Homo sapiens: one gene and its partners. The protein of the gene in region 3 interacts with the protein of the main gene of each other region in a biochemical or structural test. Each region holds a gene or a part of one and is shown on either strand. Other genes may lie near its edges. The genes, in order: TRIM39, RNF168, UBE2N, TRIM63, MIB1, RNF38 and HLTF.

The links.
Region 1: the proteins of UBE2N (region 3) and TRIM39 form a complex in vitro, tested with the Homo sapiens proteins (one study listed by BioGRID).
Region 2: the proteins of UBE2N (region 3) and RNF168 form a complex in vitro, tested with the Homo sapiens proteins (2 studies listed by BioGRID).
Region 4: the proteins of UBE2N (region 3) and TRIM63 form a complex in vitro, tested with the Homo sapiens proteins (2 studies listed by BioGRID).
Region 5: the proteins of UBE2N (region 3) and MIB1 form a complex in vitro, tested with the Homo sapiens proteins (one study listed by BioGRID).
Region 6: the proteins of UBE2N (region 3) and RNF38 are reported together in a solved structure, tested with the Homo sapiens proteins (one study listed by BioGRID).
Region 7: the proteins of UBE2N (region 3) and HLTF form a complex in vitro, tested with the Homo sapiens proteins (2 studies listed by BioGRID, with this or other methods).

The regions. Positions count from the first base shown.
Region 1 is NC_000006.12:30,336,652-30,341,110, reverse strand, and holds part of TRIM39 (E3 ubiquitin-protein ligase TRIM39), read right to left. Parts: intron 1,204-4,459; coding exon 1,181-1,203; intron 840-1,180; coding exon of another isoform or gene 750-839; intron 607-749; coding exon 491-606; intron 1-490. Other genes in the region: TRIM39-RPP21 protein, read right to left, coding at 491-606, 1,181-1,203.
Region 2 is NC_000003.12:196,489,883-196,494,341, forward strand, and holds part of RNF168 (E3 ubiquitin-protein ligase RNF168), read right to left. Parts: intron 1-4,459. UniProt on the Homo sapiens protein: E3 ubiquitin-protein ligase required for accumulation of repair proteins to sites of DNA damage. Acts with UBE2N/UBC13 to amplify the RNF8-dependent histone ubiquitination.
Region 3 is NC_000012.12:93,414,233-93,418,691, forward strand, and holds part of UBE2N (ubiquitin-conjugating enzyme E2 N), read right to left. Parts: intron 1-4,459. UniProt on the Homo sapiens protein: The UBE2V1-UBE2N and UBE2V2-UBE2N heterodimers catalyze the synthesis of non-canonical 'Lys-63'-linked polyubiquitin chains. This type of polyubiquitination does not lead to protein degradation by the proteasome.
Region 4 is NC_000001.11:26,053,985-26,058,358, forward strand, and holds part of TRIM63 (E3 ubiquitin-protein ligase TRIM63), read right to left. Parts: intron 3,667-4,374; coding exon 3,644-3,666; intron 3,344-3,643; coding exon 3,219-3,343; intron 1-3,218. UniProt on the Homo sapiens protein: E3 ubiquitin ligase. Mediates the ubiquitination and subsequent proteasomal degradation of CKM, GMEB1 and HIBADH.
Region 5 is NC_000018.10:21,865,980-21,870,438, reverse strand, and holds part of MIB1 (E3 ubiquitin-protein ligase MIB1), read right to left. Parts: 3' UTR 1-4,459. UniProt on the Homo sapiens protein: E3 ubiquitin-protein ligase that mediates ubiquitination of Delta receptors, which act as ligands of Notch proteins.
Region 6 is NC_000009.12:36,389,721-36,394,179, reverse strand, and holds part of RNF38 (E3 ubiquitin-protein ligase RNF38), read left to right. Parts: intron 1-565; exon of another isoform or gene 566-619; intron 620-2,010; exon of another isoform or gene 2,011-2,025; intron 2,026-3,563; coding exon 3,564-3,713; intron 3,714-4,459. UniProt on the Homo sapiens protein: Acts as an E3 ubiquitin-protein ligase able to ubiquitinate p53/TP53 which promotes its relocalization to discrete foci associated with PML nuclear bodies. Exhibits preference for UBE2D2 as a E2 enzyme.
Region 7 is NC_000003.12:149,044,447-149,048,905, forward strand, and holds part of HLTF (helicase-like transcription factor), read right to left. Parts: coding exon 4,417-4,459; intron 3,718-4,416; coding exon 3,582-3,717; intron 1,814-3,581; coding exon 1,634-1,813; intron 1-1,633. UniProt on the Homo sapiens protein: Has both helicase and E3 ubiquitin ligase activities. Possesses intrinsic ATP-dependent nucleosome-remodeling activity; This activity may be required for transcriptional activation or repression of specific target promoters.

The DNA of each region.
Region 1 (4,459 bases), on a different chromosome or scaffold from region 3:
TCAGCCTCCAGAGGAGCTGGGATTACAGGCGCCCAACACCACATCTGGCTAATTTTTATATTTTTAGTAGAGATGGGGTTTCACCGTGTTGGCCAGGCTGATGTCGAACTCCTGACCTCAAGTGATCCACCAGCCTTGGCCTCCCAAAGTGCTAGGATTACAGATGTGAGCCACCGCACCCGGCCTTTGAAGGTTATGCAAGTTTACATGGTAAATTATATAACCACTCTACCCGATGACTTTGGCAAATTATTTAACCTTTCTGGGTCTCTATTTAGAAAAGAATGGACCTAAGAGTAGATAACGCTTAAGGCTTCCTCTCACTCCAAGTTCTGTGACTCAGGGTGAGACTAAAAGCCAGATAAAGGGGTAGGTGTGTGTGGGAGTAAGAAAAGTGAGACATAGGATAACTGAAACCCATATAAGGTAGGACCTAAAAACTTTCTTCTCTCTAGTGGTTTCTTCTAGTTTCCTTTTGGGAACAACTCACCAATTAGCTGTTTAAGGATTTTCCTTAGGGCAAAGTACTGTCGGGGAAAATTGCTGAAGTTCTTTTCCAGCTCTATGGATACTGAAGTCACCTCCATGGTCTTCACCTTTTCACATCTAGGAGGGATAGGGAGATAGGGGAAGAAAGGGCAGGGTTAGGGAGAAGCTCCAGCCAAGTGACTATTCAGATGTTAACATTTTTAGGGAGAAATTAAAATTCTCCATCTTCCCACTTTCTTCCTCCTCCCTGAAAAGCTCACCTGTTGATTTCTTTTACTAATCCAAGGAGAGCCTTATGATCCCGTGGACAGATCGTTGAGAGTGAGCCTCCGAACTTTCTAGGAATATTCCTGTATTTCATGCAAATGGATGATTGCCCTCCCTGCTCTCCCAACCCCTTCCTCCTGCCATCTTGTTTGGACACAATTCCACCCACTGGCACAAGTAGAATCTGATTCTACCTTATCATTCTCCTTCTCAAGAAGTCCTGATGTTCAAAGGGGAAAAGGGATTATTATTCCCAATAATTTGTTCTCTAACTGGCTTCATGGGCACAATGAACATTCTCCCATACCCTGCCCAGACACACTACATGACTTTCCCAACCTCACCCCCAACCCAAACTCCTGACTGTACCCCTCCTCTCTAAGCCAAGACCTAACTCACTCAGAGAGATACAACAATCACTTACTTTTCCAGGGTACTTTTGACATCCTAGAAGGAAGGAGAAAAGAAAGCAATATTGGTCCTGGTATTCAGTGGTCCTGAAGGCAAAAGGTTCCCCCTCCTCCCCAAAGTTCCACAGCTATAAAATAGGGATAGGATAAACTGAGGGTCACACAGTGCAAGAAGAGCTCCAGCGGGACCTGAATGCACTTCTCCCAACCTAATCCCTACTTTCAACTTCTGGTCATCATGAAGCTTGGTCATTTATATCACTTCCCAATGATTTCTTTTATGCTTGTCTTTGCTCCTCAAGGATGCTGGGAGCTCCCTATAAGGGACAGGGATTGTATCAATTCTTTACTCTGTCCCCCAAGTACCAACCACATATCTCACTCTCCTTGAGGATAAGTACAGAGAGTTCCAGACTGGTGGCATAGGAACAAATCACACATTCCTGTTACGGTTTGGTATCCCCTGTCTTGCATTAGTTAATAAACATCAATAACTGGCTGGGCACAGTAGCTCACGCCTGTAATCTGAGCGCTTTGGGAGGCCAAGACGGGTGGATCACTTGAGGTCAGGAGTTCAAGACCAGCCTAGCCAACATGGTGAAACCCTGTCTTTACTAAAAATACAAAAATTAGCCAGGTGTGGTGGTGTGCGCCTGTAACCCCAGCTACTCAGGAGGCTGAGGCAGGAGAATCGCTTGAACACAGGAGGCAAAGGTTGCAGTGAGCCGAGATCATGCACTGCACTCCAGCCTGGGCGACAGAGCAAGACTCTCTCAGAAAAAAAAAAAAGGAAGAATAAACACATTAATAACTGTGTGCTAATACTGATTTGTGAATACTTGGGGTCCAGAAGACAAAGAAGACAAATCTCTGTCCCACAAGGATTTCCCAGTTTAATATGGAAGGCAGAACACACATACATGAAAGGCCATAGGAACAAATACCAAGCAATACGTAACATAAAAATAAATGTACAATGAAGCCTCACTGCTTCAAATGCTGGTAATCTAATCTCTAAGATAAAAAATATGTTCCCTAGTTTTGCTAACACCATTCATTTACGTAAGAGAACAAAATATTTCAAACACTTTAGAGGTATTATTAATATATACATATCAAAAGCAATATATTATTTAAACAATTTCAGGCATACCTCATTTTATTGCACCTCGCTTTATTGTGTTTTGTTGACATTGTATGTTTTTCAGATAGATGGTTTGTGGCAACCTGTGTTGAGCAAGTCTACTGGCACCATGTTTTCCAACAGCATGTGTTCACTTCATGTCTCTGTGTCACATTTTGGTAATTCTCACAATATTTCACACTTTTTCATTATTATATCTAGTATGATCTGTGATCAGTGATCTTTGATGTTACTATTGTAATCGTTATGGGGGCACTGTGAACTGCATCCATATAAGACGAACAACTTAATCGATAAATATATTTTATGTGTTCTAACTGATCCACTACCAGCTATTCCCTCATCTTTCTCCATCTCCTCTGGCCTCCCTATTCCGAGACACAACGATATTAAAATTATATCAATTAATAATCCTGCAATGGCCTCTAAGTGTTCATGTGAAAGAAGAATCACATGTCTCTCACTTTAAATCAAAACCTAAAAATGTTTAAGCTTAGTGAGAAAGGCACATTGAAAGCCAAGATGGGCTGAAAGCTAGGCCTCTTGTGCCAAACACCAAGCCAGGCTGTGAATGCTAAGGAAAAGTTATTGAAGAAAATTAAAAGTGCTACTCCAGTGAACACATGAATGATAAGAAAGTGAAACAGCTTTATTGCTGAGATGGAGAAAATTTTAGTGATCTGGATATAAGATCACATGATTCCCTTAAGCCAAAGCCCAATCCAGAGCAAGGCTGTTAACTCCTTCAGTTCTATGAAAGCTGAGAGAGGTAAGGAAGCTGCAGAAGAAAAGTTTAAAGTTAGGTAGGTTGTTTTAAGAAAAGAAGCCATCTCTGTAACAAAAATGTGCAAGGAGAAGCAGCAAGTGCTGATGCAGAAGTTGCAGCAAGTTATCCAGAAGATCTTGCCAAGATTACTGATGAAGGTGGCTACACTAAACAACACATTTTCAATGTCAACAAACAGCCTTCTATTGAAGAAGGTGCTATCCAGGGCTTTCACAGTTCGAGAGAAGTCAATGCCTGGCTTTAAAGCTTCAAAGGACAGGATGACTTTCTTATTAGAAGCAAGGGCAGCTGGTGACTTTAAGTTGAAACCAGTGCTCACTTACCATTTCAAAAATCCTAGGGCTCTTAAGAATTATGCTAAATCTACTTTCCTTGTGCTCTAGAAATGGAATAACAAAGCCTACATGACAGTACACCTGTATACAGCATGGTATACTGAATGTTTTTAATTAAAAAAAATTACCTTTTGTAGAGATGGGGTCCTGCTATATTGCCCAGACTGGTCTTGAATTCCTGGCCTTAAGCAGTCCTCCTGGCTTGATCTCTCAGAGTGCTGGGATTACAGATGTGAGCCAACGTGCCTAGCCTTTACTGAAGTTTTTTTTGGGGGGATGGAGTTTCACTCTTGTCACCCAGGCAGGAGTGCAACTGCATGATCTTGGCTCACTGCAACCTCTGCCTCTCGGGTTCAAGCGATTCTCCTCCCTCAGCCTCCCGAGTAGCTGGGATTACAGGCGCCCACCACCATGCCCAGCTAATTTTTTTGTATTTTTAGTAGAGATTGGGCTTCACCATGTTGGCCAGGCTGGTCTCAAACTCCTGACCTCAGGTGATCCACCTGCCTTGGCCTCCCAAAGTGATAGGATTACAGGTGTAAGCCACCGTGCCCAACCCTTTACTGAAAATTTTAAGTTGAGACCTACTGCTCAGAAAAAAAGATTCCTTTCAAAATATTACTGCTCACTGACAATGCACTTGATCACCCAAAAGTTCTGATAGAGATGTAAAATGAGATTCATGTTGTTTTCACGTCCGCTAACACAACATCCAATCGGCAGCCCATGGATCAAGAAGTAATTTGGACTTTCAAGTCTTAATAAATGTATTTCATAAAGCTGCTATAAATAGTGATTTTTCTGATAGATCTAGGCAAAGTAAATTGAAGGCTTTCTGGTAAGGATTCACCATTCTAGATGCCATTAAGAACATTTGTGATTTGTGAAAGGAAGCCAAAATATCAATATTAACAGGCATTTAGAAGAAGTCTATTCCAACCCTTATGGATGACTTTTAGGGGTTCAAGACTCCCATGTTGTAAGTAACTGCAAATGTGGGTTTTCAAAGATTTTCAAAGAAGTTCTA
Region 2 (4,459 bases), on a different chromosome or scaffold from region 3:
TGGATATGGGTGCAGGTGCACACACGCATATTTCTTTAAAGAAACAGATCTAGAGAGAGCCAGAGCAGCTAATGTAATAGGTGGTGACCCAGAGCAAAGTCCTCTGCGATCGGGCAGTTAGGGATGGCAAAGCACAAAGGCCAGGTTTCCATCGGCTTGAACTCAACGTCTGCCCATCACCAATACCCTTCCACATACACAGAGCTTTTCTCCTGGGCCTCATTCTCAAACCTAAAAGCTAATCCAAGGATCGTCAGACATTTGAAATACATCTGCAGGACTAGGGAAACAGTAAGCTATACAAAGAGAAAAAATCATCACCCTGGAGTTGAAAGATAATTCTGGGTCAGAAAATAACCTAAATGTGGGTATGTATCCTCAACAAATCTGATGAGAATTTTATTCTATAAAACAAGACACTGTTTTATAAAGTGTAAAAAGGGAACATCCAAAAAAGAGAACGCATCTGTCTGTTTCAAGGGGCAGCTGCTACTCAACTCCAGCTGACTACGACTACCAGGAAACTCAGGCCTGTCCGTGCCATATTTTTTGCTTTCTCAAGAAAATCCAGAGGCGGCAGGGGTGGATGGTGAGAGATGACTTCATGGGTACAATGTACATTATTTGGGTAGCAGATACCCTAAAGAGCCCTGACTTCGCCACTGTGCAATCTATACATGTAACAAAATTACCCTTGCACCCCATAAATTTATCCAAGTAAAAAGAAAAAAAAAAAGAAAATCCAGCAATCAAGATGTTAATATGAAATCTTCCAACTTAAATAGTGGCATTGGATGGGTCACAAAAAACATGCACACAGGATTCCTATGGCCTGCAGGCCAGCAGTTTGAAAAATCTGCAACAGAGAGACTAAAAAACAGTGATGTAACTCCAAAACAATTAGGGATGCAGTATGCTGAATTCTCATTTATTTTAGTCACTAAGGAGGATCTATTCAAGACAATACAATGGTATACACAGGAGAGACATATATAAGGCTCCTTAAAAAGTAGAAGGATAATCAGCTGGCTTAAACTGAGACCTAGATCAGCAAGTCTTAAAGTAGAATCTACGAAACCCTGGAGGTATCTGAGACTTTTTTTCAGGGAAACTGCAGAGTCAAACTATTTTCATTTAAAAAATTAAAGTAAGCTGGGAGCGGTGGCTCACGCCTGTAATCCCAGCACTTTGGGAGGCTGAGGCAGGCGGATCATGAGGTCAGGAGTTCGAGACCAGCCTGGCCAATATGGTGAAACCCCGTCTATACTAAGAATACAAAAATTAGCCAGGCGTGGTGGCACGCACCTGTAGTCTCAGCTACTCGGGAGGCTGAGGCAGTAGAATAGCTTGAACCCGGGAGGCGGAGGCTGCAGTGAGCCGACATTGCACCACTACACTCCAGCCTGGACGACAGAGGGAGATTCCGTCTCAAAACAAACAAACAAAGAAACAAACAAAAAACCCAAATAAAACAACTGACAGTAGGCCGGGCACAGTGGCTCATGCCTGTAATCACAGCATTTTGGGAGGCCGAGGCAGGTGGATCACTTGAGGTCAAGAGTTTGAGACCAGCCTGACCAACACGGTGAAACCCGTCTCTACCAAAAAATACAAAAAGCCGGGAGTGGTGGCAGGCACCTGTAATTCCAACTACTCGAGAGGCTGACACAGAAGAATTGCTTGAACCCGGGAGGCGGAGCTTGCAGTGAGCCGAGATCACGCCACTGCACTCCAGCCTGGGCGACAGAGGGAGGCTCCGTCTCACAAACAAACAAAAACACATGTTCAACATTACTAGTCATTAGGGAAGTGCAAATCCTGAGTACGGAGATACCGCTTCAGAGGACAGCCAACACTTGGTTTTTTTTTTATAATAGTCATCCATTAAGATATATACACACACATAATGGAGTATGCGGCCAAAAAAGGAAATGGAATGGACACGTGCTAGAACACGATGGACCTTCAAGACACTACGCTGCGTGAAACAGCCAGTCACCAAAGGACAGACACTGTGTGGGGTTCCACTCGTACGAGACACCTAGAGCAATTAAACCCGTAGAGGCAGAAAGAATGGAGGTCGCCAGCAGCCAGGGGAGGGGTGAATGGGGAATTAATTATTGTTTAATGGGCAGTTTCAAGCGTGGAAGATGAGAAAGTTCAGAGATGAATGGTGGTGACGGCTGCACAAAAACATGAATGTACTTCATGTCACGCAACTGTCCATTTAAAAATGGTTAACATGGCGGATTTTATGTTATGTATCTTTTACAATAAAACTGGAAAAAAAGTAAATCACTTTACACATTAGATACAATAAAATAGTAGCTAAGAGGCTGGGCACAGTGGCTCATGCCTGTAATCCCAGCACTTTGGAAGGCTGAGGCAGGAGGACCACTTGAGCTCAGGCTATCAAGACCAGCCTGGGCAACATAGCAAGACCCCATCTTTGTTCAAAAAAATTTTTTTTAAGTAGCTAATTTAGGAAAACAATAATAAGACAGATGTATTATACTAGAAAGCAAAACATATCATTAAGCAGAATTAAACTAAGCATGTGTGGTACTGACACAGCTACTGATAAAGAGATAGTTAAAAAATAAAAAGCCCAGGCAAGGTGCCATGGCTCATGCCTGTAATCCCGGCACTTTGGGAGGTGGAGGCAGGCGGATCACTTGAGGTCAGGAGTTCAAAACCAGCCTGGCCAACAAGGCAAATAACCCTATGTCTACTAAAAATACAAAAATTAGCCACGTGTGGTGGTGCACGCCTGTAATCCCAGCTACTCAAGAGGCTGAGACAGGAGAATCGCTTGAACCCGAGAGGCAGAGGTTGCAGTGAGCCAAGATCGCACCATTGCACTCCAGCCTGGGTGACAGAGAGAGACTCCATCTCAAATAAATAAATAAATAAATAAATAAAATAAATAAATAGCCCCAAATTGCTCTGGAAAATAAGCATATGATTAGTGAAATAGTACGTATATCAATGTGGCTGTATTACTACCAAGTAGTGTGGCTATTAAGTGGCAATCAAGGGCAGGGGGAGTTAAGATGCCTACCTCATACAATACTCGAATTCAAGGTGGATTAAAAAATGGAAAAAAACAAAACTATAAACGACTAAGAAGAACATATGAGATAAATTCCAAAACAATTAAAACTTCCATGTGATGAAAGACATCACAAAGTTAAAAACAAACTAGAAGTTATTTGCAAATACATAAATCACCAGAGAATTAGTGTCCAGAATATAACTAGAACTTCCACAGATCAATTAAAAACCACAACAGGCAAAGGAAAGGCACGTGCGATTTACAGAAGATGCCCAACTACAGCAAGCAGAGAGCTGAACTTTTGTTAAACCGTGGAATGACAGATTTTTAAAGTTTACTTATTTCTACATAAACTGAATCTAAATTAAGATCAGTGAGTTATTCAACTGCAGACACAAGTTAAAATTGTCTTCATTTGCCTTTTTCTTTTGTTTTTGGAAACAAGATCTCACTCTTGCCCAGGCTGGAGTTCAGTGGCGGGATCATAGCTCACTGCAGCCTCCAACCCCTTGGCTGAAGCGATTCTCCTGCCCTAGCCTCCTGAAGCACTGGGATAACAGGTGTGAGCCACTGCATCCAGTCCATTTGCTATTTCTTTTTCTTCTTTGACGGAGTTTCGCTCTTGTTGCCCAGGCTGGAGTACAATGGCGCAATCTCAGGTAACTGCAGCCTCCACCTCCCGGGTTCAAGCAATTCTCCTGCCTCAGCCTCCTGAGTAGCTGGGATTACAGGCATGTCCCACCACGCCCAGCTAATTTTTTGTAATTTTAGTAGAGACGGGGGTTTTACCATGTTGGCCAGGCTGGTCTTGAACTCCTGACCTCAGGTGATCCACCTGCCTTCCAAAGTGCCAGGATTACAGGTGTGAGCCACCGTGCCCAGCCTTCCATTTGCTATTTCTTTCTTTTTTTAAATTTATTTTTTTTTTTTTTTGAGACAGAGTCTCACTTTGTCACTCAGGCTGCAGTGCAGTGGTGCAATCTCAGCTCACTGCAGTGTCCACCTCCCAGGCTCAAGCAATGCTACTGCCTGAGCCTCCCATGTAGCTGAGACTACAGGCGCCCACCACCACACCCGGCTAATTTTTGTATTTTTTGTAGACGGTTTTGCCCTATTGGCCAGGCTGGTCTCACACTCTCAGGCTCAAGCGATTTGCCTGCCTTGAACTCTCAAGTACTGAGATTACAGGTGTGAGCCCCCGCACCTGGCCTGTTTGCTATTTCTTAAACAACTCTAATTTTATAAGAAATTTGAATATCTCAGTTTTATAGTCTTAAAGTGACTATACAATTTTTGCCATCTGTTGGAAACAACTCTCGACACTCTTCAGTTCTGGTTAACTCTAAAATTTCTGCTGAAACCCACTTCGGTTAAACATTCCTACTCTACTCGATATTTTGCTTC
Region 3 (4,459 bases):
TCAGGTCAGGAGTTCGAGACCAGCCTGATCAACATGGAGAAATCCCACCTCTACTAAAAATATAAAATTAGCTAGGCATGGTGGCGCATGCCTGTAATCCCAGCTACTTGGGAGGCTGAGGCAGGAGAATCGCTTGAACCCCGGAGGTGGAGGTTGCGGTGAGCCCCGATCATGCCATTGCTCTCCAGCCTAGGCAAAAGAGCGAAGCTCCGTCTCAAAAAAAAAAAAAAAAAAAAAAAGTCATAGTCCTTGTAATGGGCCCCCAAAAGACGCTCTATATGATGCCCTCACTCCACCTACCTCTCTGACTTATCTTCAGCTGTTCTCTCTCCATCCCCTAACCTTCTCTGTTCCAGACAAAAATTAGCTTCCTTGTAGTTCTTCAACGTGCCAGGCATCCGCTCACCTCAAGGGCTTTGTACTTCCTCTTCCTCCCCAAGATATCCATATGGCTTGCTCCCTCAGCTCCTAAGATCTTCATGTTTTCTCAGTGAAGCCATCATAACTGAAATTGCAAACCCCATTCAACCCTACCCTGCACACTCCCTATCCCCACTCCCTGGCTTTATCTCCACAGCACTACTAACAAATCTCATTTCTACTTATTTTGTTCAGAATTTAAGCTCCATGAGAGGATGGATTTGAGTCTATTTTATGGACTGCTATATCCTCAGCATTTGGAACACTGCCTGGCACAATAGATATTCAATTAATATTTACTGAATTCTGAATCTATTTGATGTTATGAAAAGAGGGAAATAAACGATCAGAATTTCATCGTTAACATCATTAAGGCAGGGTTATTTTCAAGGCAGGATGTGCACATTATGGAAGGAAAACAAAAGGAGCCACTCAGGTATGGGGAAAAATAGTCTAACTTCTACTTATATTTATTTTTAACCAGAAAAATGTTCATATTTAAATAAGCTTTTAGGTATGAAAAACAATAAATGAGAACATTTTATTTACACTGCCTTCACCTAAAAAAAAATACATCATAAACTGTTTCATTCCACAAGCTACAGGGCATACGTTAAAAACAACAACAACAAATAACTTCTCTCTCAGCACAGTAATATACTGAAATAGTCATAAGATGTAAATACAAATCAAATGCTTCCCCAAAATGTGTTAATTAAACCCATGGCCATTTTAGGTAATGTCTCTGGTATTTTAAGACTAGTTTTTTGTTTTGATCATGGCGATGTAAGAGCAAGTGAGAAACTGACATGTTCTTTAGGTTCAAACTAAAACATTTTTAGAGTATTAAAAAGCTCAAGAGGCAATAATGAAGCCTCTGACCTTGGGAAGTCCTTTAACATGTGACCAGAACAAAAGAGGCTGGTCTTCATTTTTTAGGAAAAAAGTTAAGATATTAGGGATGAATAGCAGGAGTAGAAAAATGAGAAAATAACTGGATGGTAAAATTCCTTGAATTCTGGGCTCTCCTCACCTCCATCCTTTAATTTTACCCCAGGTCTTCATGTTTTTAGAAAGCCATAAATTGGGTGACTGGAAAAAAAAGAAAGCCAGGGCCCAAGAGTCCCAATCCACCACTCACCAGTTACACAAAGTAGTAGCAGCTCTGTATCTACTATAAAAAGCTACAGAAAGGCCTCCAAAAGCGTATCCCAAAATAGCTTCAAAATCACTCTCAATACACAGTGGCAGAGATAGGTATGGCATTTACTTTCTCATCTTCAGTTCACCCTCAAAATCAGATATTCTTTGTAAAGAATGTACATATTAAGCACATCATGTGACCTGATCAAGCCTAGATTTAATTGGAACACATTCTAAAATAAGCTTTCGTGTGTAGAAAACATTTTGAAATAGTCCTTATAATATATGCTGCTCTCAAGTTCTAATGGACTGACACAAAAACATGCATAATTATTTCACTAAACTGTTGGTTTCCCTAACAAACCCACAGCATAAACTGTGGGAGGGGAAAAAAGGAATAAAATCCAAACTAAATGAAACAAGTCTGAAATGGCAGCATCTGAAAAAGTCTCAACCACAGAAACTGATGTCAACTTTTTTCCTAAAAAGGCAAAAACTGGCTAGGAAATAAAATCTTTCCGGCCACTATTCAACACATGACTAACTAAAATACCTTCTGGTTTTACACTATTCTTTGGTGGAAAGACAGAGTACAGTATGATTTCTTTAAGTGAAGAAGTAAAGGGCTAAAATTCCTACTGTTTCACTTATCTATCTTTTTTTTTTTTTTTGAGACAAGTCTCGCTCTCTTGCCCAGGCTGCAGTGCAGTGGCACGATCTTGGCTCACTGCAACCTCTGCCTCCTGGGTCCAAGTGAGCACCTGGCTAATTTTTGTATTTTTAGCAGAGACAGGGTTTCACCATGTTAGCCAGGCAGGTCTCGAACTCCTGACTTAAAGTGATCTGCCCGCCTCAGCCTCCCAAAGTGCTGGGATTGTAAGCGTGAGGCACCACGCCCGGCCTTATCTATCTTTTGGCACAAATAATTTACATTGCAGGTGGGATGCCATGGTTCACACCTGTAATCCCTGCACTTTGGGAGGCTGAGGCAGGCAGGGGAATCACTTGAGGCTAGGAGTTCCAGACCAAGCTGGGCAAGCATAGTGAGACCCCATCACTACCAAAAAAAAAAAAAAAAAAAAGTTGACAAATGAGATCACATAGGAAGGCCATAGTTGTTTACAGAAAAACAGAATAACCCTTAAATGAATTTTGTGATTCTATTATGTTTAAAAGCAGTCCAAGGATTGAATCCCAAACAGAAGTGAGTTTAGGGCCATGCATAATAGAAAGCACTGTAGACTATGTTCAGGAAATTAGTTAATGTAGACTATGTTCAGGAAGTTAGTTACTAAAATAGACAGGTAAGTTGGTAAAGGAATAGGGTATGGATTTAAATGTCCACAAAATTAAGTCTAAAGGAAGGTATCTCATCTTATAGAACGCATACAATAGTTAATGCTACAAATATTTTTAAAAGGAATCAAATATCACATCAAATTGATCTAATTATCAACAGATCTACTGGGTCTTGAAGAGCAAACCCTAGACTCACACTACTGTAAACTATACTGTAGTTAGTCAATTATAACAACTGACATTCTGTCAACCTATCTCTATTAACCAGGACTCTTATTTTTAAGTTGAAAAATAATTTGTGCTCAGTACGAAGCAATGACAGGTCTTAGATGCTCTTCTGCAAGGCAATGATTGGAGTATGTACAGTAAAATTTTGGGGTAATAAACAGTATTCTTAGAAAAAGTGCTAATTTGTGTGTGAGAAAAGTTGGTCCAGTTAGTAACTATCTATATCCCAGTGCATCCTGTCTACAGTGATTAGGTTTTTTAGAATATTCTCTGAAACACAAAATTGCAATATATGACCAGTAATATCAACTGTAGATCTTTTAGCTCATCTCAAACAAGAGCTGTCTGATAACTCAGTAACTGCCAATTTCATTACTGAAAAATAAGTGTTAAAAAACTGAGTGATGCTTCAATGATACCTACTCTGTAAACTCCAACCTGTCACTACATCTTTAAGCGATTCTAAAATATTAACAAACAGGGTTCTGGACAAAGTTGTGTGTTATAGAAAAAAAATTTAAATAAAGAAAAAAATTATGAAAAATTTGTAAGATAAAACAAACGGGCTCCTTTTTTGGGATCACTAATAAAGCAAGTCAATTCTTCATTATGTACACAACTGTAAGTTACTTATGAGAATCTGCAAGTTCACCCTCTATATATATAAGTGGGCATTTTTATTTATCACTTTTTTTGTAGAGATGGGTTTCTCTATGTTGCCCAGGCTGGTCTCCTGCCTCAAGCAATCTTCCCGCCCTGGCCTCCCAAAGCAATGGGATGACAGACGTGAGCCACCACACTTGGCCCAATAAGTGAGCATTTAAAAAATGTTACCACCAGCCTGGGCAACATAGCAAGACCCCATCTCTGCAAACCAAAAAACTAAAAAAATTAGCTGGGCATGCTGGCATATGACTATAGTCCTAGCGTACTTGGGAGGTTGAGGTGGGAGTACTGCCTGAGCCCAGGAGTTCAAGGTTACAGTTAGCTGTGATCATACCACTGCACCCCAGCCTGGGCGATAGTGAGACCTTGTCTCTTAAAAACAAAACAAAACAAAACAAAAAGTTAATTATCATCAATGGACATTTTCAAGTGCATACCCCTTGCTTCATTTTATCTGTAAGCCCTGTGAATTTTACTACATGATTTTGTATAACATAACATTCTTAGAAACATATAATGTCTCATTATAGTAAAACTGACTGCCTATTTTCTAGCTGGGATTAGAAATAGAACCAAAGTTTTGCTCAAGCTCCCCATTACACTACTTCCTTACAAATCATAAGGCCACCTAGAGATACACTAAGATAAAAATGGCTGATGAGTACTTTTCTCCACAGCACTGCTATCCAACAGAAATATAATA
Region 4 (4,374 bases), on a different chromosome or scaffold from region 3:
TGTTAGGATGGGGCCGGTTCCTTGAGGAGCTACTTGAAGAGGAACCAGGCAAGAGAGAGCACGGTCTAAACCCCTTCCTGTGCCCAGTCGGGTCAAACGGCCACACAGCGGCGGCAGTGGTCTGGGAGGGGATGGGCTTGCCAGACCCACGCTGCACAGAGGCCCTGCTCCTGCAATCCCCCGCACTCCGTCCCAGGGAGCTGGGCTCAAGTCACTTCCTTGCTCCAGCAACAGCAGCTTCTATCACCTGCTCGCCTGTGACCAGAGAGGGGACTCTGAGGAAGCGCACTCTGTGCTTCTGCACATCTCTCGGGTAGGCAGATAAACATTGCCTGAGGAGGAAAAACCTCCTCGATCCTCAGGGATCAGAGTCCTTGTCTTGAAGGAAGCTACTTAGCCTATGAGATCTGCTTGTTCAGCAGCCACTGTCCCATTTTCCTCATTCCTTAGCCTGTGGAGGGGAGGGGTGGACATGATGGGGAAGCACTTCTGGAGCCACCTCTGCTCCCTGAAGCTGAGCACCAGAGGGACAGTGACTGAGCTGCAACTCATGTCCCCACTTTTTTATCCTGAGATGTCACCGTCAAGCTTTAACAGGGAACATCTCCCTTCCCCGCTCCTCTCCCAAGCTACCTCCTTAACCTTTTGGGGCCCTGAAGGGGTCACCACAGAATCAGAACATTTGTCAAGAGTATCTTCAGGCCAGGCTTGGTCGCTCACACCTGTAATCCCAGCACTTTGGGAGGCTGAGGCGGTCAGATCACCTGAGGTCAGGAGTTCAAGACCTGCCTGGCCAACATGGTAAAACCCTGTCTCTACTAAAAATACAAAAAATTAGCTGGGTGTGGTGGCATGCACCTGTAATCCCAGCTACTTGGGAGGCTGAGGCAGGAGAATCTCTTGAACCCAGGAGGCAAACGTTGCAGTGAGCTGAGATCACACCATTGCACTCCAACCTGGGCGACAAGAGCAAAACTCCGTCTCAAAAAAAAAAAAAAAAAATAGTATCTCCAAAATGACAACCAAAATTCCAGCCAAGTAACTGATATCAGAGTATAACCCAGGGAGTTCTGTTGTTTAATCATTGTCACAATGACTACATTTAATAGCAGTTGCTGAGTACTTACTATGTGCCAAGTAGTGTGCTCAGTGTTGAATCTGCATCGTCTTATAAAATCCTCACAAGAGTTTTGCAAGCCAAATGGCCCTCAGTAGAATCTGCACAGGCTACTTGCCAGCTGTGTGGCCTTGAACAAGTGGCTTACCCTCTCTGAGCTTTAAGTTCCCTCAACTACAAAATAGAGATGGTAACAGAACCTATCCCATGAAGTTGTGTTAAATGATAAAACTTATGTTAAGGGCTTAGCGCCTAGGACATACAGAATATTCAGTAACTGGTGACTGTTGGTACTCTCCTCATTTTACTTGTGGAGAAACTGAGGCTCAGGGAGATTAGGAAGGCCAGTGCAGGACTTCACAATGTTATGTTCACACCGTATGACCCACTCTTGAATATCTATTTCTTTCTTTTTTTTTTTTTTTTGAGATGGAGTTTCACTCCTGTTGCCCAGGCTGGAGTGCAATGGCGTGATCACAGCTCACTGCAACCTCCTCCTCCCGGATTCAAGCAATTCTGCTGCTTCAGCCTCCCGAGTTAGCTGGGATTACAGGCATGCACCACCATGCCCAGCTAATTTTGTATTTTTAGTAGAGACGGGGTTTCTCCGTGTTGGTCAGGCTGGTCTGGAACTCCTGACCTCAGGTGATCCACCTGCCTTGGACCCCCAAAGTGCTGAGATTACAGACGTGAGTCACTGTGCCTGGCTGACCCACTCTTGAATATCTTAGCTTAGGGAAGCTGACAGTGGAGCAGCTCACTACAGCAGTGGATGTCCCCAAGGCCATTGGTGTCTCTGCTTTGGGATGTATTTTGTCCTTACCTATGAATGGGGTATATCTGGGGCTCTGAAAACAGACTTAGCACCAGCTACTGAAGGTTTGTAGGAGAGCGACACAGGAGGTGCCAAGAAGCTCTTCTCTTTCTCACGCCAGCCATTTACAGTTCTTCCTTGTTCCTTCATCATCCCCTTGTCCCCCAACCTCAGCTGGTCATTGGAGCACCACCTCTCAGACCAACGCAACAGTCAGCAATGTGGGATCTGCCCTCTCTTTCTCTGTTGCCTTTTAGCTGTGTTTCCCTTTTAGCTGTGTGACCTTTAGCAAATTAACATATTTGCTTCCATTCAGTTTCTTCATTTCCTTTGTTATTTTCACCCTTATTATTGTTACGGTTGCATTGTTACAATTATTATAGGCACTCTATGGAAGAGTAATTATAAACAGAAATGAGGACATGATGTTGATCAATTAAGGTGCCTGGGTATCATAGGTGATAGCATTAAGAAACTGAAGCTAAGACTACCTTTAGGCAATAACTAGTACATCTTTAGGGCTCTACAGGACCTTTCTGCATTGATATCTGATTTTTTGCAACAGCACCATGAGTTGGTCATTATTAGAGGGCTCACTTCTAACCTGACTTTTTAAATTAGAAAATAAAACTCAGGCAGAAGGGGGCTTGCCAAAGGTCACACAGATAAACAAATGACAGAACCAGGATTTAAACTCAGGACTGTCTGATTCCAGAGGGCATATTATTTCTACTGCCCCAAGAGGCCTCCCTGCCATGGATCCATATGTAATTTATGAAGCAGGAATTCTGCACCAGGCACTGTGCTAGGCTCTGGGCTCATCTAGAAATCGACTATATGAATTTTTTTTTTTTTTTTTTTGAGATGGAGTTTGGCTGGCTCTTTTGCCCAGGCTGGAGTGCAGTGGCACAATCTCGGCTCACTGCAACCTCTACCTCCTGGATTCAAGTGATTCTCCTGCCTCAGCTTCCCAAGTAGCTGGAATTACAGGCACATGCCATCACGCCTGGCTAATTTTTGTATTTTTAGTAGAGATGAGGTTTCACCACGTTGGTCAGGCTGGTCTCAAACTCCTGACCTCAAGTGATCCGCCCACCTTGGCCTCCCAAAGTGCTGGGATTACAGGCATGAGCCACCACAGCCGGCCAGAAGTTGGCTATATGAGTTTGATTGATATTTGGGGATCTTTATTAGTGTATCTGCCTCCCCATCGGGCTCAGTTGGAGGGATGCTGGTTTCCAGGGGTCAGGCAGGCAAATAGACAAGTGGCATCACCACCTCCTTTACCTGTCCCAAAGTCAATGGCTCTCAGGGCGTCTGCTATGTGCTCTAAATCCAAAGTAAAGAAGTCCATGTTCTCAAAGCCCTGCTCTGTCTTCCCCAGCTGGCAGCCCTTGGAAGCTTCCACAATGCTGCAGGGGAGACAGAAAGAGAGGCAGGATGAGGTCTCTGGGGCTCAGTGCAGGGAAGAGAGGGCACATGCTTTGCCACGCCCAGGCCTTCTACCCAGAGGCTCCCCTGGAGGGATGGAGTATTTCCTCTCCAACCTCAAGCACAAGGAGTGGTCCAAAAAGTCAGGGATGCAAAGGGTCAGGGAAGCCAGCCTAGAGTGAGACCCTCCCAGCAGGCCTAATGCCCAGGATGAGGCTTCCTGGACAGAGGTCCTGGTGGGAACTAGGTGCTTGGATCATAGCCTCTAGGAAGACACTGACCTTTTGATGAGTTGCTTGGCAGTCTGCAGGGGGAGAGAGAACAAAGGATTAGGACCGCAGAAGAGGTAACCGCAGGAAATCAGCAAAACTAGTGAACTAGGTGTTGTAGGTAGATATTTGGTGCCATTCCCTAGCCCAGTTGTGACCTGCTCCCCACCCCAAACTGAGCAGAATCTGGAACTTTTCCCTCTGTCTGTGGTCTGTACAGGTCTTGGTCATCACCCTAGGACCCACTGTCTTGACAGGAAGCTTGGATTCTAGGGGTATCAATCCCAAAACTCCTAAACCCTGAACTCCCCAATCCTAACCACCTTTTCATACCTAATGTCTAGCAAAAAGCCTGGCCCACAGTAGAAGCCTAGAACATTTTTATTGAACTGAACTATGAAGTCTTATAACTGAGCCTTTTCTGTCCTCCCCAACAAGCTCTTTGAGGGCAGGGCTGTGTCTGGTTTATCTCCTTGTCTTCCACCTCAGTGCCTGGCCTACAGTAGGGGCTCAATTAATAGTCTGTAGATGGGACACTGTATTTTGCAGCTTACAAAGTCATTTCATAAACATCCTCTTATCTTATCATCATAAAATCAGTAAGAGGAAGGTGGGGGGTGTTACATGCCCATTTGACAGATGAGGAAACTGAGGCTCACAGAGGTTTAAATGGCTTTTCCAAGGGCCCATGGGTGGTCAGTGGGGAAGCATAACTTGAACCTTAGAGCTGTAGAGTTGAACTG
Region 5 (4,459 bases), on a different chromosome or scaffold from region 3:
GTGAGGTGTTAAAATATGAAATGCTTCTTTGGCCCTTTAGATAGAGGTACCTTAACTGTAAACAACTGCAATGAGAGCCTTCTAGATGTGGACACTTATGCTGAATTGAAGATGTACATCCTTGTTTCTTAAAGGCATGGTAATTTCCTTTTTAACAATAACAGGTTTTTTAATGTATTGAGATTTGTTTTTAAATGCTTTAAAAATCAAAATTCATGTATACTACTATAAAAGAATAATTCTCCAAAGATCAAAGAAAAGCATTATATGATATTACACCATAGGTTTTATTAACGATAAATGTTTGCATTACTTTTAAAAGCTTAGCTCTTACTAAGCATTCTTTAACAAAAGCTAATAAGCAAGAAATCATTTGCCATACGGAAACTATATTCACAAACAAGACTTTAATCCAATATTGAAAGCTAAAGAATTAGAAAAAATACAAAACACTGCTATGAGTCAATTGAACTGCTATCATTGAATTTGCTGCATTTAGAATGACATAAACATACTGAACATAAAAACAATTTTATGGATTTATTCTATAAGACTAGCATTAAGAATGACATACAATTTGTGATTTCCTTTAAAAATAATTTTTTACAACAGAATCCATTTGAACAAAGGGTCTTTTTTTTTTCCCCTCATTTGAGGGGAAGACAATCTATGTTTCCCAAACAGATCCTCCTTTCATACTAAAATAGCAAACTGTGGCCTCGATCTCCTCTTCCCAGATGCTACTTATAGATGACTTTGCATAATAACTTAATTAGAATTACTTTTCTGGTAACAGTGTCACGGCCATAAATAATCAGTTTTTAAAAAACAAACATCAAGTGCAAATCTAGAAAACTTCCTTTAAAGAATTACCCAAACCCAGCACACATGCAGAATCATTATTAACAAGCTAAGCAATATGACTTTAAAACGTGTATATAATGATACACGTGCACTAAAGACCATCTTTTATAAAGTTTTAATAGTGTTGCCAAGTTAATAATTCTTTCAAGGCACTGGAGAATTACACAGATGGAGTTTCCAAAATATAACTGACAATTGCTTGAACTGTTAAAAAGCCCTGAGTCAGAACTTTCAATAACTTCCTGAAATTATAGATTGCAGACAAAATGGCACGTTTATTTTACTTTAAAAATTACAGGACCATTTTGCTTTTTGGAGGAAATAAGCTGGGTTTATGAAACAAATCATGCAGACTATACAGGAAAAGTAAAATATTCAGCATATGACCTTTCTTAGACATTTTGTACATGTCGATCACAACTTGTAGTTACAGATTTAGGCACCAAATTAATGTGACAAGTCACTTCTCCTGTACCTACTGCTTAAATTCTCAATGAAACAAAAATGTCAATTTTAACCTCAGGTTCCCATTTCCTCTTTACTCACAAATAAGAATAAATGCTGGAAAAAGTAATACTCTGACAGAAAAGGAGGTAGAAAATGCCAATGTAGCAATTTACAATTTTAATTCATCGGCTCTACTGTCTAGTTTACGTTTTTATACCAGAGTTTCACATACTACTAACCAGTAAATTGAGGCTCAATCTAAAGGATATTCCCCCTCACTGTAGTAAAGCAATGTACACGAGACAGCATTAAAGTTTCCTCAAATTTAATGTTTTAAAGAAGTACAACTATCATTATTAATACTGCTATAGTTATATATATGTTAAATTTCCTAGGCTATATATGACTATCAAGTAATATCAGTAAGCATTCCTATCATAATATTCAAGCAAATGAAGTAACGTTGCCTTTTTGAGGGAAAACATATTTTGAAACTTTTACAAGCAGACATAAAGACAGTTGACACTTCCAACAAGGCACACATAATTTATGAAAATCTATTATGTTCCCAATTGTACAAACTCAAAGCTAATCTAATTCTGATATTTAAAATGTGCCTCTCCCCTCTGGCTCAAAATGAAATAACAAACCCTTCCAATGAATAGACATTTAAAACCTACTCAATTTAATTGCTAACAATTCAGAGGAGAGGTGCACTGTCCCTCCCAAAAATTTTAAGAACTTAATGTTTACCATGACCTTAGATCTTGCAAACACAAACAACTAAAGAATTTAGGTGTTTCTTGATTTATATGGAGTCAAAATTCTATTCCACTGAGGAGAAAACAAAAAGGGGAGTTGTTTAATGGGTATGGAGTTTCAGTTTTGCAAGATGAAAAAGTTCTGGAGATCTGCTTCACAACAGTGTAAATGTACTTCACATGGCTGAACTGTATTCTTTAGAAACAGTTAATATGGTAAATTTTATGTTATGAGTTTTTCATCACAAAAAATACAAAAAACTATTCAAAAATTCAATTTTTTACACAAATTATTACTATAAAACATGGTAGACATTCTGATAGGATAAGTGCTTTTCCTTTTGGATTAAAAAAAGCAACCTGTATTAAAGCCTATAATTTGATGACATCTGTATGATCCTCTTTTTTTCTCTACACTCAAATGCTGACTTTCCTTTCCTATCTGTTGTAACCCCACTGTCCTGATCCTACTCTACCCCATCTCTAATTCTCTTAGTTCATGAATTTAACTAATTCTTAGTCCAAAAAGGGTCCAGAATTCAGAGTGGACAAACAGCAATTGGGCAACACATAGACAGTATGTTTCTACTATGTAAAAATGACCCAGCAAGTTTTGATATTTGAACCAGACACATCTTAAGCAGCATGCATTTCAATATGCTAAAATGCTCTTACAGGCTAACACCATAAAAATATAAATTTTAGAAATGTATTTCCAACATTAATTATCAATTAATTTTATGCTTCCATAGCTAGCTGGTCAATTTGCAATGTTTAAAGTTACAAATATCTTATGCATAATTTGACCAACTAAACATTTGTCTAATATATTCCTACACTAATACAAAATTATCTTTTCTTGAAAACCTTCTTGCTCCCAACAAAATTAAATATGTATATAGTATAAGCAGTAAGAACGTTAAATTACGTGAACAAATACCATTAGAACAGCACCATCTGGTATGTTGTATGTGTATGTTTTGAGTAACAACGCTAACAATCTTAGAAGAATAAAGGAGAAAATGGTAGGGTGAGGGATACAGAGAGGAAATCCAAACACTACTCAATGACAACTCTTCTGAAACGTTAGGAAATGTTATCAGGACCTTTGGATCTCTTCCTTTTAACTACAGATTCCTTAAAATACACAACTGCTGCACAATAAATTCTGAGTGTGCTAAGATGCCATTTTTCCACTGTTGTGTATCTAATCCCTAAAGCCCAATAAATACTTTTTTGAATGAATGCGTGTCAGTTTTTTTCTTTTTTATAAATGTTTCTAAGAAAAGTAAAAGCTCTTTTGAGGCACAAGATAAAGAGGTTTAGCTAATGAGCAGGGTAACGAACCTAACTGGAAAAGTACTGCTAAGGGACATATAATAAGAGGTAGCAGATTCAGAGAGTTGGAGGAAAGTCACTGAAATGATGAAGTTCTTAATCTTATTATCTCTCACAAACCCAAAATAAATTTAAAATAATTCTAAGTGATTGAAAACATGAATAAAGAAGTATTTTCTATTCATGGAACAAATTTCAAGGTGATACAAATACAGAAAACCCACAAGTACTAGCACTAAAATTATAATGACATTATTTCTATAATAAAAATTTATGTCATATTCTTATAAAGGAAATAATTAAACTAGTCTGGAAGATGCTATTACCTTTTAGGGATCTGTTTTAGCACTGCAGCTCAGAAAACAGAAAGGATTTGTTTAAGGAAAGTAGAGCTGGAGACCACACAATTCTCTGATTGGCCAAACTCTGCATGAGTCAGCCAGGTGCTCCCTCCTCACCAGGTGATCTAGTGGGAAGAGATGGGTAGCCCATGGCATGGAAGGAAAGGAAAAACCTGACATGCTGTTTTCATGTCTGCAACATGATAGTCTGTCTGTCTCTTTATGTGAACATCATCAGTCAGATGTTCTACCTTTTTATAACTTCAAAATAGTTTTAAAAACAGCGTCGGTGGCCCCTTATTAGATAACTGAGTGTACATGAATTTTCAAATTTGAAATCTATAAAAATTTTACTGTTCTAAATGATAGCAGTTACTCAGCTAAACACAGACATGGAATTGTTGAGACTACAAAACCAGCCAGCAAAGCTCCCCATTGCTTTCACCAGGACTTGCAAAGGCAGCAAGGATTAAACAGCCAGAAACAGTGTAAGAGGGCTAGAGACTTCATACTTTCAAATTTAGTTGGTGTTCTATAAAAACTGAAGTAAGAAAAGCTAGCCAGATTTAAAGGAGGGAAAAAAACTACAAAAGAGGATAACTATTTTTAGGAAAAAGCTTATCAACAGCATATAGTAGACACTATGTAAACACCTGATATAATCTAGCAGCAATGAATCCCCAAACATTTATGTGTATATTTACTCAG
Region 6 (4,459 bases), on a different chromosome or scaffold from region 3:
CCTCAGCCTCCCAAGTAGCTGGGACTACAGGTGTGCGCCACCACGCCCAGCTAATTTTTGTATTTTTAGTAGAGATGGGGTTTCATCATGTTGGCCAGGTTGGTCTCTATCTCTTGACCTTGTGATCTGCCCGCCTCGGCCTCCCAAAGTGCTGGGATTACAGGCGTGAGCCACTGTACCCGGCCCAGAGCTGTGATTTCATCCGTGTCTCCTTCCAAGTTCACTGGTAGAATGTGGTTCTTGTGATTATAGGACTGAGGTCCCCCATTTCTTGCTGGTCGTCAACTGGTGACTGCTTTCAGCTCCTAGAAGCTGCCCTCAAGCCCCTGCCACATGGTACCTTTCGCATGCCTTCTCACAACATCTTAGTCTGAAGAATTGGCAAGAGAATCTCTTGGGAAGGACTCAGTTCTGCTTTCTCTGATTAAGTCATGCCCAGGCTCACCCAGGATAATCTGTCTTTAGCTTGAATTCACCTTACTTGGAATCTTCATTACATCTGAACGTCTTTCCTCCTTTGTCATATGATTTAACCTAATAATGGGAATGAAATACATCACATTCACAGCCCTGCCTGCGCACATGGGGAAGGGGGTTGTACAGGAGATGGACACCAGAGGTAATCTTGGGCAACCTATGTATGGGACTGCCTGCCCCACACACACACACACACACACACACACACACACACACACACACACAATGTGTGTGTGTGATTTTATTTTACCTAGTAGTAAAAATTGTACCTCATTTTAATCAAGCCCATCTATGGTTTTGTCCCAGACTTATTTTGAATATAGCTTTTCTCCATTATATTGGTCCATCCTTTTTAAGACAAATGGAGCCTCTGATCAAAGGAAACTGTTGTGAGTAGGAGAGGATATGCTTGAAAATTATGGCCACAGGGACCAGGTTGGCCAGTTTTTCATTTGTCTATGACCAAGATCTTAAGATTTCAAAGGAACAAGGAATGAAGGAGAAGAAACATAACCTTGATTTGTCTTTTCCCAGCCAGCTACTTGTACTAGCAATTTTGTAAGACTGCTTTGGGCATGATAGTTGAAGGCAGGATGGCCTTAGGATAACACGCTACAAAGGATACATAATGAGCAAATGAAAAGCTTAAGAGGATGCAAAAAGATTCCTACATAAAGAAGCAAACCATTTTGAGAGAGTGGCAAAAGCCCTCCTTAGATTGAGTCAGGAATGTGAAATACTCCTTTTTCTATGAAATCTTAACTCTTACCTTCACATTAATTCAGAACTCTTACTCCTAATTTTTCCCTGTTTTATGGCCTTTAAATATTATGTTACAGTTGGCTGCTTGCATCTGGGTTTCAAAAATTGTTAGAATAAGCTTCTTGAGGTTAGGGCCCATGTTTTTATATCTTATTAGATTAACAAATACTTATTTTTAGAAATTGTCTCACCATGTTGACCAGGCTGGAGTATAGTATTGCAGTCATAGCTCACTGTAACCTCAAACTACTGGGCTCGAGTGAAGCTCCTGCCTTAGCCTCCTGAGTAGCTAAGACTACAGGAGTGTGCCACCATGCCACACTAATTTAATTTTTTTAATTTTTATTTATTTACTTATTTTTTTGAGTAGAGATGGGGTTTTCTCTATGTTGTCCAGGCTAGTCTTGAGCTCCTGTACTCAAGCTCTTCTCTCACCAGGGCCTCCCAAAGGGTTGAGATTACAAGTGTGAGCCACTGCATTTGGCCTGTCTCTATATTCCTAATGTAATTCTTGGCTTGTAGGAGTCAGTCAGTAAATACGCCTTGATTCAGCAATGCATACTTCTGCGTAATGGTAAAGGATAGCACATTCATGTTTGTAGTATAGAGATCAGAACATTCTGTACAGAAAACTAATGAATTCTAAAGTTTCTGCTTTCAAGTGCTTTGTTTTTTACTTCTAGGTGAGTCTTTGGAAGTATTTTTACTCTTACCAGTGGGCACAGTTATCTGTTTACCAGGTCCATAGCAAAGCAGAAACAAAATACTATAAAAAGGCTAAGGAAGGTAAGGGTATTAATATATTAACAGCAGGGATATTAATAGCATTTCATTTTATGATCGGTTTCTGGCTGCTTCCTTACTATCTAGCCATACTAAACGTTTTGCAGTTTCCTGACTACACTGCTGTCTCTTGGCAGCTACTTCTCCATAGCACCTAGTGCCTAGCGTTACCATAATACTTACATCCTGCAGTGATTTACTTTTGTTTCTTTCTTATAGCATATACTTTTTGAAAGTAGGAAACGGGCCGGGCGCAGTGGCTCACGCCTGTAATCCCAGCACTTCGGGAGGCCGAGGCGGACGGATCACGAGGTCAGGAGATCGAGACCATCCTGGCTAACACAGTGAAACCCCGTCTCTACTAAAAATACAAAAAATTAGCCAGGCGGGGTGGCGGGCGCCTGTAGTCCCAGCTACTCTGCAGGCTGAGGCAGGAGAATGGCGTGAACCCCAGTGGGTGGAGCCTGCAGTGAGCCGAGATGGCACCACTGCACTCCAGCCTGGGCGACAGCGAGACTCCATCTCAAAAAAAAAAAAAAAAAAAAGTAGGAAACGATGCCTTTGTTTTTGGTTTAATGCCTGTCACCAAATAGATGCTTAAATGTAGGATTGAGTGAATGAATGAGGCAATGAAACTCTAAAAAGAAGACCATGTTAAAGTATGTAACTTTTAGTGTAGGTACAAGAAGGGACCACGAGCCTTAACCCCCCAAGAAGAATTCACTGTCACAGCACAGTGGAACACATTATGTTCATGATTTTTTTTTTAATGTTACAGAGTAAGTATATTTACATATGAATTTAAGAGGATTAACCCATAATCAAGTCAAACATTTATTTTTGTTTTTTAATTTTTGTAGATAACTGGGGCGATCCTCCCACCTTGGCATACCAAAGTGCTGGGATTACAGGTGTGACCACTGCATTGGCCAAATCAAGCATTGGAAATGTGGCAGTCATTTACTTTTGTGCTTATGATTGTGTCCTTTATTCCTTAGGAAGGTCTTTAGGTTTGTGTTGAATAGAGCTGAGATTTCTGCAGTCAAACATATGTTTGCTATAGAAAATTTGCCACAAATATTGTTAAATCTGTCATTTTCCTTTGCATGATTATTTGGAAGGTTAACTAAAAAACAGAATGAGAAAAAGTATTAATCTTGGTCCAGGCAAACACTTAACCTTTCTGTACTTAAGATATGTAATTTTACCTTGGGTTTTCTTAGCATGAAGTCTGTCCTTTAGGATTTCGGAATTAACACCAGCAGAAAAAGTTACCAATAGGTATTTGGGAAACAGGAAGGACGTGGTGTTCTTGGGCTGTGCTGTTTTGCCTCCAACAGTTTTTGTAAGAGAGATCCATTGCCAGAGGCAACCTTTGCCATCTTTATGTTTTGATGTTTAAAATTAATTTTTAATTTCTTTCCTGTCTTCGCTAGCAGAATCATCAAATACCTAGAAAATCCAGACTATCCTTCATAGGCGTGATTCTCCACATTGGTGCAGCTAGCCATGAACTATCCTTTTCTTCCTCTTTTTCCCAGATATCTCCCGGGGCCAATTCAGCATCTCTACCTGGCCATCCTAACAAGGTGATTTGTGAAAGGGTGAGACTTCAGAGCCTGTTCCCTCTCCTCCCAAGTGATCAGAACACTACCGTTCAAGAGGATGCTCACTTCAAAGCTTTCTTCCAGGTTCTTATATATTTACCCTTTCCCTACATAGGGCTGAAAGTCACATTCTACAGTGTTTCTAGGAAGGCTTGAAACAAAATGCCCAATATCGTCTCCTTGTTTTCTGTTGTATGTGGAAATAAGTATTCTTCTTAGAGGACTTTAATATTTTTTCAGCCAGCTTTTCTGACTAATGTTTGTCTTCTTGAGCTACTCAGCTACTGTTAATTATTTGACTACTTAATATTCTTGTGTTTTGATCTTTTGGTCTTAAATCACTTGTCCTAATAGGTCAAGTTCTGTAGGAAAGTAGAAGATAGTGTAGAATATATGAAGTTGTGTAGGAAAGGAAAAATGAAAGCATGTAAGATGTTCACTAGTTACTTGCTTGGCACCCAGAGTTCGATAGTAACATACATTTCTGAGAGAAAACATGGTTACTTGTCTTCTTTTACCTGTGGGTAAACGTGAGTTAAAAATTTTTTTTTAAATATAAAATGAAAACTCGAAAGTAAGGTGTGTAAATGGATTGAAACTCATTAGGTTATTAACAAGATTACTGGAATCTGCCCATAGAAATCATTGGCTACCAAACTTTCAATCCATATTCCTAGAGAAGCATGTTTTAGTAGTGGAAGTCAGTATCGCTGTTACCACAAAAGTTAGGTTACACAATTGCCTCTGAGTGGTAGGATTGCAGGCCAATGTGTATAAACCTGAGGTAGTGAAATAATTGATCATCAAGGCTGGGACTTTTGAATAAGAGC
Region 7 (4,459 bases), on a different chromosome or scaffold from region 3:
ATATTAGAAGCTTCCTTCCTCCTATTTCACCAGCCATTGCTATCTTCACAGTTAGATCTCTTTCACTTTACTCACTCCCTTGGTGATCTCATGGCTTTAATTACCATCCACACATAGCTGACTTTGAACTCGACTCTCCTATCCAACTAATTATTTGATATCTCTACTTGGAAAATTCACGGGCATCCTATGATCAATGTGTCCAAAACTGAGCTTCTGATCTTAGCTTAAAAAAATCTCTGCTCTTCCCATAGACCTGTCTTGGTAAACAGCAATTCCAGCCTTCCACTTATGCAGGTAAAAAGGCTTGAAGTTATCTTTGATTCCTCTTTCACATGCCATAACATATCAACCAGCAAGTTCTGTTGGTTCTACGTTCACAATTTAACAGAATCTAATCATTTCTCACTCCCTTTATCACTACTATGGTAAAAACCACCATCATCTCTTGCTTTGACTGCCACTGGTCTCCCTACTTCTGACCTTATTCCTATTCAAATAACCTAAATCTGAGCACAGCAGCCAGAGTGATCTTTTAAAAATATAAATCAGATTACGTCCCTCTCCTGGCTCAAAACCCTTTAAGGTTTCCTGTCATAAAAAGTAAAAGCCAAAGTCCTTGACATATGCGTTACATACCCCCATTCCAATAAATCTCTGATATCATGACTATTTTCTCTCGTTCATACTATCCAGCCACACTTGCTTCTCTGTTATTCTTCAAGCTCACCAGGCATGTTCCCAACTGGGAGCATCTACACTTGCTCTTCCTTCTGGCTGAAACACCCCTTAATCCCAATCTCCTTTAGATCTTTACCTATATATCATCTTCTCAGTGAGGTCTTCCTTAATACCCTACTAAAACAGCTTTGGCATTCCCCATCCCCTTTCGTTGCTTTATTCCTTAAAACTTAATCATGTTTTTAAATTATCTGTTTCTTCCCATTAAAATATAAATTCCTCGAGTGCAGGCATTTTTGTCTGTTTTATTCTGCTGTATCCCAATGGGTATAAGTGCCTGGCACACAGTGGGCACTTAATAAATTTTTGTTGAAAGAATATGAAAAGAAAGAAGATTTTGAACTCAGAAATCTGCTGCTTAGAACAATCTTTCCCACTCTCTCTAATTCCTATCAAACCTGCTTTGTACCTACCTCACTGAAGTTTTTATGTTTTGAAGATTCCCCTTTCACAGTCCTATTCTGCTTTCACTTGTCTCTTATTCATTCTGTTCCCTGTGGGCTCACATTAAACCTGATCTTGCTTGGACCAGAATTTCATACCTTCTACCAATCCTTAATCTTCTTGTTAAACCTATTTCATCAGTTCCTATTTCCAGATTTCCATACGATTTTGGAAATAGAAGCAAGCAAAATCTTCTGGCTAGCAATTGAGAACTTGTCATTTAAAGTAAGCTTTAAATTATTTCCTAACTTAAAAAATTACTTACCTGGTGAATTATACTATTATTTCATTCACTTTATTGATTTGTAAAAAACACTGTAATTCATAGAAGCAAATTATCTTTCAGTATACTTCAAACTATTGCTAACACATCTAAATAATGTCATTCAGTGAATGGGAAACAAAGTAAACAAAAACTAATTTTTAACATGGTTTTCTTTCTCCATACCTTCCAATAGTGGCTCTGCCTTCATTTTTCACAGACTGATAAATCTTTCTCTCTTCATCTGAAAGTGTAATGTGCTGAATAAATACTTTACGTTCTGGTAACTCCAAAACAGGTTTTCCTTTAATTTTGCTTGTCTTTGTTCTTCTAAGTGTAATATTTTTAATTAGGGACTGTAAACGCCTAATCAGAATAAAACAAATAATTATGTAACTTTTAATTTCTACATAAATTGATCCAAGAAGAACGAAACAGAACATTTTAATTTGTTACTGTTTTATAGCTTCTGTAAAAGTGTTTTTAAAATCCCTTATTTGGGATTTTAACCAATCTGATAATCACAGAAGTATTCTACAAAAATAAAATTATTAAAACAAATGTATGGAAATTTCCCCTCAATACCTAACATAGTTTAATCTTTTTATATCCTGTCCTTATTTTCGTAAGTTCTGTTCCCCATTTTTGTTCCAATCACTAACTCTTTTACTTCTCAACTGTCCTGTCAACTCCATCACCGAATAGTCAACACTCAAATTCTAAGTATCTATTAAGTGCCAGGCACTGAATTAAATGTTGTAAGAATACAAATATGGGTAAGATACTACATTCTGTAATATTAAAATCAAAAGTATATAAATAAGTAATTGTATAAAGTAATGAGTGCCCCCAAAATAAAAAGATAATATGGTAATTCAGAACACAGAAAAATGCTTTACAGGTTCCACAATCTTTACATTTCTTTCTCAGTACTGGAAAAAAAGAGATGTATCAATTCTTGTTTTTTCCCAACATTGAAATATAAATACAATTTCCTGGAGTTTAAATAGTTGGTTTTGAGGAATCAAGTGGATAGTACTGCCAACTAGGTTAGTGGCTCTTGAAGCTTTCTCACTATAACTCACAGTAAGAAACACATTCTATCCAGCAAAAATATACAAACACATACAAAAGAAACAAATATTTCACAAAATAATACTTACTATGTATCATGCACTCCGATATTTACTAATCTCTTCTCTATTTCATTGTCTTTTTAAATGCTGGCTACCACCTTTATAATGATTTTATATCCCACTAATAGCTCTCAAATCTTCAGTCTATAAACCGGTGCTTTAGCCAAAAAGTTGAACCACATTACATCTTGCAAAATGGCTATCACTGAGTTTTAATTTATGTTCTCAACTTTTATCTATCTCCACCAGAAACAACCACATAAAACTTTCCTATACAACTTTTGCTAAGGTCATGGTACCTCACATCATTCACTATATAAAGCTATGTAAGGCCAGGTGTGGTAGCTCATGCCTGTAATCCCAGCACTTTGGGAGGTCGAGGCAAGAGGATAACCTGAGGTCAGAAGTTTGAGACTAGCCTGGCCAACATGGCGAAACCCCATCTCTACTAAAAATACAAAAATTAGCGGGGCATGCTGGCGCAGACCTGTAATCTCAGCTACTTGGGAGGCTGAGACAGGAGAATCGCTTGAACCCAGGAGGCGGAGGTTGCAGTGAGCCAAGATCGCGCCACTGCCCTCCAGCATGGACGACAGAGCAAGACTCCATCTCAAATAAATAAATACATAAATAAATAAATAAAGCTATATAAGATATGAAAACTTAATGCATATTAGATCCTCAAAGGATATACGATGTTTCCTGCTAAATCTGTTAATGCTGGTTTTGGGGCTTTGGGGCTTAGCAACACACAAAAAACAGTTATGTCTTTCCTTTCAGTTTAGCCACAACAGGGGAAGGGTAGTTATCGACAATTAGAAATCTTTGTCTTTCCAAACAAGCATCACTAGGTTCTGAAAGACAAAGGTACTGAGCCATAAACACTTTTTAGAAGGAAAAGTTAAGAGTCAAGTTAAAATAGTAAAGAAAGTGCCAACTGGTTCAAGCTACTAACAGTTATTTGTAACTAATATTAATCACTGTCTGAAAGTACTTACCTAAGTCCTCCTTCATCTCCCATTGTGACAGGACGCTGTATTGTTCTATGCCACCATTCTCTATCAATAAATGGTTTAAGTTTTAAAAAGGAAAGAAGAGACCACAAGTCCTTTAAAGAATTCTGGATTGGAGTACCTAGAAATAACAGGAAACTGTTATAACTCTTTAACCAGAGTATCCAGTAAGAGTATCTATTTGGCCCAATCAGAGAAGACAACAATTGAAAATGGGCACTCTGTACCAGGCTCATCATTATCAATTAAATTAAACTATCAAGTGTTGACTATAATCATTTATTAAAAATATACACATCTCAAGATACAGTTTTGCTCTAATTTTTAGCTCTCACATGACACACTAGCCAAGAAAAAGACTGGAAAATTCAACTTTCTCCTTATCAAGTACATCTGCTTATTTAGTTTTTAAAGCAGCAGCACTAGCAGAAGGAAAAAGCAACTAGTTTAAGTTTACATTCTTTTCCTTACCTTCTAGTAAAGGTACTGTGAATGGCAAACAGGTTTGAGGATGGGAAACAGAAATCAAGATTATGACTGGATGACTAGAGTGTCTACTCCATTTCCACTAGAGTGTCTACTCCATTTCCAAGGTTCAAGAATAAGTCTAGTGACTGTTCCATAAATTATCAATAAGTCAAATGTTGTTATATCACGGGCAATTATGAAGAACAACTCAAAACATTTGATTAAATTATTTATATGATTAATTTTGGGGCAGAATTTACACCCACTTTAAGTTTACAAAGTTACTTTACTAACTTACATAATGATATATTTTAGAGATTTAAGGTTTTAGTAAGTTTAATGCTATGATTACCTGTCAAAACCCATCTTCTTTCTGATTCTAAGTCAAGTACAGC